2 linked regions of the Homo sapiens genome follow. Changing the gene in region 2 together with the main gene of any one other region gives a genetic interaction. Each region holds a gene or a part of one and is shown on either strand. Other genes may lie near its edges.

What was found. Genes that interact genetically often act in the same process or in processes that back each other up.
Region 1: changes in NF2 (region 2) and BZW1 together harm fitness more than expected from each alone (negative genetic interaction), as found in Homo sapiens cells (one large-scale study listed by BioGRID).

Annotation. Positions count from the first base shown.
Region 1 is NC_000002.12:200,821,910-200,824,873, forward strand, and holds part of BZW1 (eIF5-mimic protein 2), read left to right. Parts: intron 1-237; coding exon 238-269; 3' UTR 270-2,964. UniProt on the Homo sapiens protein: Translation initiation regulator which represses repeat-associated non-AUG (RAN) initiated translation probably by acting as a competitive inhibitor of eukaryotic translation initiation factor 5 (EIF5) function.
Region 2 is NC_000022.11:29,610,133-29,613,632, forward strand, and holds part of NF2 (merlin), read left to right. Parts: intron 1-3,500. UniProt on the Homo sapiens protein: Probable regulator of the Hippo/SWH (Sav/Wts/Hpo) signaling pathway, a signaling pathway that plays a pivotal role in tumor suppression by restricting proliferation and promoting apoptosis.

The DNA.
Region 1 (2,964 bases), on a different chromosome or scaffold from region 2:
AAATAAAAAATTAGCCAGTTTTGGTGGTGGGCGCCTGTAGTTCCAGCTACTTGGGAAACTGAAGTGGGAGGATCACTTGAACCCGGGAGGCAGAGGTTGCAGTGAGCCAAGAGGGTGCTGCTGCATTCCGGCCTGTGGGACAGAGGGAGACTCTGTCTTAAAGAAGCTTCAAAGTTATAAATGGGAACTTTTGCCTTCTGATACATAATGTTTGACTGTTTTTTTCCCCTTTTCTAGAATCTGAATCTGAAGCTGAAGAAGGTGACTGAATTTTGAAACTACACCCTCAGTAAAGCAAACAGGAGTTGTAGATAAAATGTCATGTCTCATGTGTCCTGGTTCTTACATCTTCCTACCTCCCTGTATCAAGCATGATATAAGGGCTTTCATGGCAAATTTTATTTTAACTGTTTCTATGGTTGCTGGAAATGTTGGGTTTAGTTTCTAAAACCATGTTTTAAGTAGCTACAGGAGCTATAGATTTGAATCTAATGTTGCATTAGTCTTTTCAGTTATCTTCTACCTCCTGTATTTTCTACTGTAATAATGTAATTTAAGGCCTTCCACAATGAACAGTTCACTTTATTCCCTGGGTTTTCTATAAACAGTTTTAAGGATATGATTTGGTTAAAAAATAATTTGTTATAAAAATTCTGTTTGCAAATTAAACTGGAAAAGTATCCAGAGTCTCAAAAGGCAATGATTTGTGAGATAATATGGCATGCCCGGAGCCCTGCTCATCAATGAAAAACCCATATGTAATAATCGAATTCATTTAACATGAATCTTGAGTACGTGGACCATTGCTTGCATGTTAACTTTTTGTTTTGTTTTGTTTTGTTTTGTTTTGCATTTTTAACTCCAGATATCCTAAAGCTCAATTGTTTGGTCTCTGGTTTTCATCCTTAGAGAAGCCATGGAGAACAGACTTGAAAAGTTTAGGAAATCATAATGTGGCAGAGGTGGTGGGAAGAAGAAAGTTGAGCTTTTTCCCCTTGAGAAACTTCTGCATTTAGTTTCTATCTTTCCAGGCAAAACAAATGGGTATTCTTTTCATACAACCATTTTCAAATGAACCTTAGAAAAGTCTTAACATTTAAGGTATTTTATGCACAGAATACACTTAGATTGATAGGAAAGAACTCGTAATGGAGTTTGAGTAAAGAAAATGACTGATGTACTAAACCCAGTAAAAATTGTTGAAAATGTTAAAGGTCAGCATGTTCTAATTGGGAATCTAGATATAGCTTAGATTTCCTATTGGCTTAGAGTATTTGCTATAACAAATGAAGTGCAATGACAATTATATATTCCTACTCGGTCATACTGGACTGGCTTCGTTCTCTTAATATACTCAGTAATGACTCAAGCCTCTGGCTATTAACATACCCTAGTTGCCGTTTTTTAATTGCCATGAGCCAAATACTTCTTGGTATACAATTGATCCATTTATTTTAATGGCTGCCTTTTCATTTTCATCTTTTCTTGCTGCTACCCATCTATGTATGTAGTCATTGGGGGGAAAATGTAGCCACATTTTTTATGGGAAGACTTTGTGTTAAAAGTGAACATTTTGAAGGTTTTTAACTGGTGAAACTAGCCTGGAATAATGCCACCAGAGACTGAGTGGAAATCGCCCCTTTTGAAGGTGCCATTCTTATGAGCCAAAAGTTTGTCATTTAAAAGTTCATTTTGAGGGAATAACATGTAATATAATTTGAAATAAAGGTATAGTAACCTTAAAAAGAACATTATAACTGATTGTTGTGAATGGGGTGAATTTGTTAAAATGAGTAACTTTGATAAAGTTTTTCATGCACAGGCAAAATGTATTCACTAGATTTCTACGTAGTGATCTGCTTTTACTTTGTAATTTGTAGTTCTCAAAAGACTTTTTTTTAAAAAAATAAAGTCCATACTTACACTTAGGCTTTATACATCAGTCTTTTTTTTTTTAAATTCCATGTTAATACCTAGTGGTATTGTATGTTGTGTGTTCAGATGTCTTTACTGTATCTGTATACCATTAAGTAATAATTAGACTCCCAAACTGTAAACCACCTACACAGAATTCTGGTGTAGCTAAAACTACATTAATATTTCTACAACCAATTCATTGCATGTTTCTTCCATACAAAGTGTGCCATTTTATACTGTGTATAGTGAAAAAGTGTGTCATCTTCCAGAACTACATTATTATCTTTGATCGTAGTTTGTTTCTTCATAATGACACTGTAGTGTTTACTTAGTAGAACATTATAGTAAGTGGATATCACTTGTGACAGTAATAGTGTAAAGAAAGGGAATGCTTTATAAAAAGATTGCAGATTCCATTCCATATAAAAAGATTCCATTCTGAATCTTAAGTGGTAATTTTAGAATTCAGGTGCCAGTGCCAGCCTATGGCCTCAAGTATGTAATTCTTAATATAGATGTTAAATTGTACTTTTAATTATGATTGGATAAATGTTTTTTCTAACTGTCAGTTTCTAAGGCTGTCTCCTTAGAAACTAAATGAGTTTTTAGAGCTGGTTGTAAGTTTCTTAGCCTTACTCTGTGAGTTATAGATGTTATTTCATTCTATATATAGATGTTTATTCCATTCTTATTTAAAAAAAAAAACCTCCATATACCAAAAATGCTACAGGATATTTTGAAATAGCATATTTTAGTTAGGGGAAATGCATGTGACCAAGAGGTTGGACTTCTAATTCAGTTTTTCAAAAGCTTTTTTCCATTATCATACCCCCAGCCTTTTTAGGCTTTTTTTTTTTTTTTTTTGAGACGGAGTCTCGCTCTGTCACCAGGCTGGAGTGCAGTGGCGCGATCTTGGCTCACTGCAAGTTCCGCCTCCCGGGTTCACGCCATTCTCCTGCCTCAGCCTCCCGAGTAGCTGGGACTACAGGCGCCCGCCACCATGCCCGACTAATTTTTTTGTATTTTTAGTAGAGACGAGGTTTCACC
Region 2 (3,500 bases):
CTTGAGACCAACCTGGGCAACATAGAGAGACCCCAACTCTAAAATATACATACTATATCTAAACTCAGCTAGGCGTGGTGGTGTGAGCCTGGAGTCCCAGCTACTCAGGAGGTTAAGGTGTGAGGATCACTTGATCCCAGGAGGTTGAGGAGGCAGTGAGCTATGATTGTGCCACAGTGCTTCAGCCAGGGTGACAGAGTGAGACCCTGTCTCTTAAAAAAAAGAAAAGAGGCTGGGTGCAGTGGCTCATGCCTGTAATCCCAGCACTTTGGGAAGCCAAGGTGGGCAGATCACGAGGTCAGGAGTTCAAGACCAGCCTGTCTAATATGGTGAAACCCCATCTCTACTAAAAATACAAAAATTAGCCGAGCATGGTGGAGTGCGCCTGTAGTCCCAGCTACTCGAGAGGCTGAGGCAGGAGAATCGCTTGAACCCGGGAAGTTGGAGGTTGCAGTGAGCTGAGATTGCGCCACTGCACTCCAGCCTGGGTGACAAAGTGAGACTCCATCTCAAAAAAAAAAAAAAAGAAGAAAGAAAAGCAAAGCAAAGCCCAGGCCTGTACCTACTAGAGGTCCTGATAACTTCACCACTGAATTCTATCAAACATTTCAAGAAAAATTAATACAGTTCTTCACAAAGTCTTCAAAAATGAAAAAGAGGAGAAAATACTTACAAACGAATTTTATGAGACTGGTATTACCCTGTTGCCAAAAACCAGGAAAAGACATTACAAGAAAAGAAAACCATAGACAAATATATCTTACAAATGTGGAAGCAAAAATCCTCAACAAAAATACTAGCAAACTGAATCCAGTAACATATAAAAATAATTATATACCATAAACAAGCAGGATTTATTCCAGGAGTGCAAGGTTGGTTTAACATCCAAAAATGAATTAGTGTAAATAATGTAATGCATTATATCAATAGAATAAAAAACAAAAATCACCTTGTCATCTCAGTAGACACAGAAAAAGCATTTGACAAAATTCAGCATGTTTTTCATGATAAAAACACTAAATAAACTAAGAAGAGAAGAGCAGTTCCTCAACCTGATACACAGCAGTTATGAAAAACCCACAGCTAACTTCATAATAGTGAGACTGAGGCCAGGCACAGTGGCTCACGCCTGTAATCCTAACACTTTAGGAGGCCAAGGTTGGAGGGATCACTTGAGGTCAGGAGTTCAAGAACAGCCTGGCCAACATGGTGAAACCCTGTCTCTACTACAAATACAAAAAAAAATTAGCCAGGTGTGGTGGTGCATACCTATAATTGTAGCTACTTGGGAGGCTGAGGTGGGAGGATTGCTTGAACCTGGGAGGCAGAGGTTGCAGTGAGCTGAGATAGCACTACTGCACACAATAGGCTGGGCGACAGAGCTCAAAACAAACAAACAAACAAACAAAATAGTGAAAGACTGTATGCTTATCCTTAAGATTAGGAAAAAGAGAGATAAGTCTACTTTCACTACTGCTATTCAGCATTGTACTGGAGGTTCTAGCCAGGGCAATTAGGCAAGAAAATGCAATAAAATACATCTATGTTGGAAGGGAACAAGTAAGATCATCTCTGCAGATGACATGATCTTGCATATAGACCCTGAGGAATCCACTACCAAAGTATTGGAACTAATAAATTATTAGTTTAGTAAGGTTATAGGATACAAGATCATTACACAAAACTTAGTTGTAAATGTATCCACTTGGAATGAACAATCTGAAAAGGAAATTAAGAAAATTCCATTTACAATAACCTAAAAAATAAAAATACTTATAACAAAAGAGGTATCTTTTTTTCCATCCTCTGACAGTTTAGTAAAAGAAAGTATAAAACTTATACTCTAAAAGCTGTAAAACATTTTTGGTTTTGTTTTTTAAATTAATTTTTTTTGAAACGGAGTCTCACTCTGTCGTCCAGGCTGGAATGCGGTGGCGCGATCTCGGCTCACTGCAACCTCTGCCTCCCAGGTTAAAGCGATTCTCCTGCCTCAGCCTCCGGAGTAGCTGGAGCTACAGGTGTGCACCACCATGCCTGGCTAATTTTTGTATTTTTAGTATAGAGGGGGTTTCACCATGTTGGCCAGGCTGGTCTCGAACTCCTGACCTCAGGTGATCCACCCGCCTCAGCCTCTGAAAGTCCTGGGATTACAGGCGTGAGCTAGTGCGCCCAGCCTGGCCTTTTAAAATATTTAATTAATTGATTTTTTTTTTTCTCGGACTTGCACTGAAGTGAGAACAAGTGCAGTGGTGCAATCATATCTCAGTGCAGCCTAGACCTTCCAGGCTTAAGTGATCCTCCTATATCAGCCTCCCAAGCAGCTCAGACCACAGGCATGCGCGATCATCCCTAGCTTTTTTTTTTTGTTTGTTTGTTTTTTAATTTCTTGTAGAGACAGAGTCTCCCTGTGTTACCCAGGCTGGTCTTGAACCTGACCTCAAGCAACCTCCCATGTTGGCCCCTCAAAGTGCTGGGATTACAGGTGTGAGCCACCGTGCCTGGCCTGTAAAACATTTTTAAAAGAAAGAAGATATAAATAAATAAATAAATAGAAAATAGCTCTTGTTCATGGATCATAAGACATAACGTTGTCAAATTGGCAGTATTTTGGAAATTGATCTACACGTTTGACATAATCCCTGTCAGAATCCCAGTTTATTTCATTGTAGAAATTGACAAGTCTCCAGGCGTAGTGGCTCATGCCTGTAATCCCAGCACTTTGGGAGGCCGAGGCAGGCGGATCACCTGAGGTCAGGAGTTCAAGACCAGCCTGGCCAACATGGAGAAACCCTGTCTCTACTAAAACTACAAAATTAGCCGGGTGTGGTGGCACATACCTGTAATCCCAGGTACTCGGGAGGCTGAGGCAGGGAATCGCTTGAACCTGGGAGGCGGAGCTTGCGGTGAGCTGAGATCACGCGCCACTGCACTCCAGCTTGGGCAACAAGAGCGAAACTCCATCTCAAAAAAAAAAAAGAAATTGACAAGTCAATTCATAAATTCCTATGGAATCGCAAGGGACCCACAATAGCTAAATCTTGAAAAAGAACAAAGCAGAAAGACTCACGCTTTGTGATTTCAAGACATACTATAAAACAACTAATCAAGACAACGTCACCAGGCACCGTGGCTTATGCCTATAATCCCAACACTTTGGGAGGCCAAGGCAGGCAGATCACTTGAGGACAGGAGTTCGAGACCAGCCTGGGCAACATGGCGAAATCTTGTCTCTACCAAAAATACAAAAATTAACCGGGCGTGGGGGTGCACACTTGTAGTCCAAGCTGCTTGGGAGGGCTGAGGCACAAGAATCCCTTGAACCCAGGAGGTGGAGGTTGCAGTGAGTCGAGATCGTGCTATTGCACTCCAGCCTGGGGGACAGAGCGAGATTCCATTTCAAAAAAATAAAAATAAAAAGACAGTGTGGTACTGGTATAAGGATAAATGTGTAGATCAGTGGCATAGAATTGAGAGTCCAGAAATAAACCCAGTGGAATAGA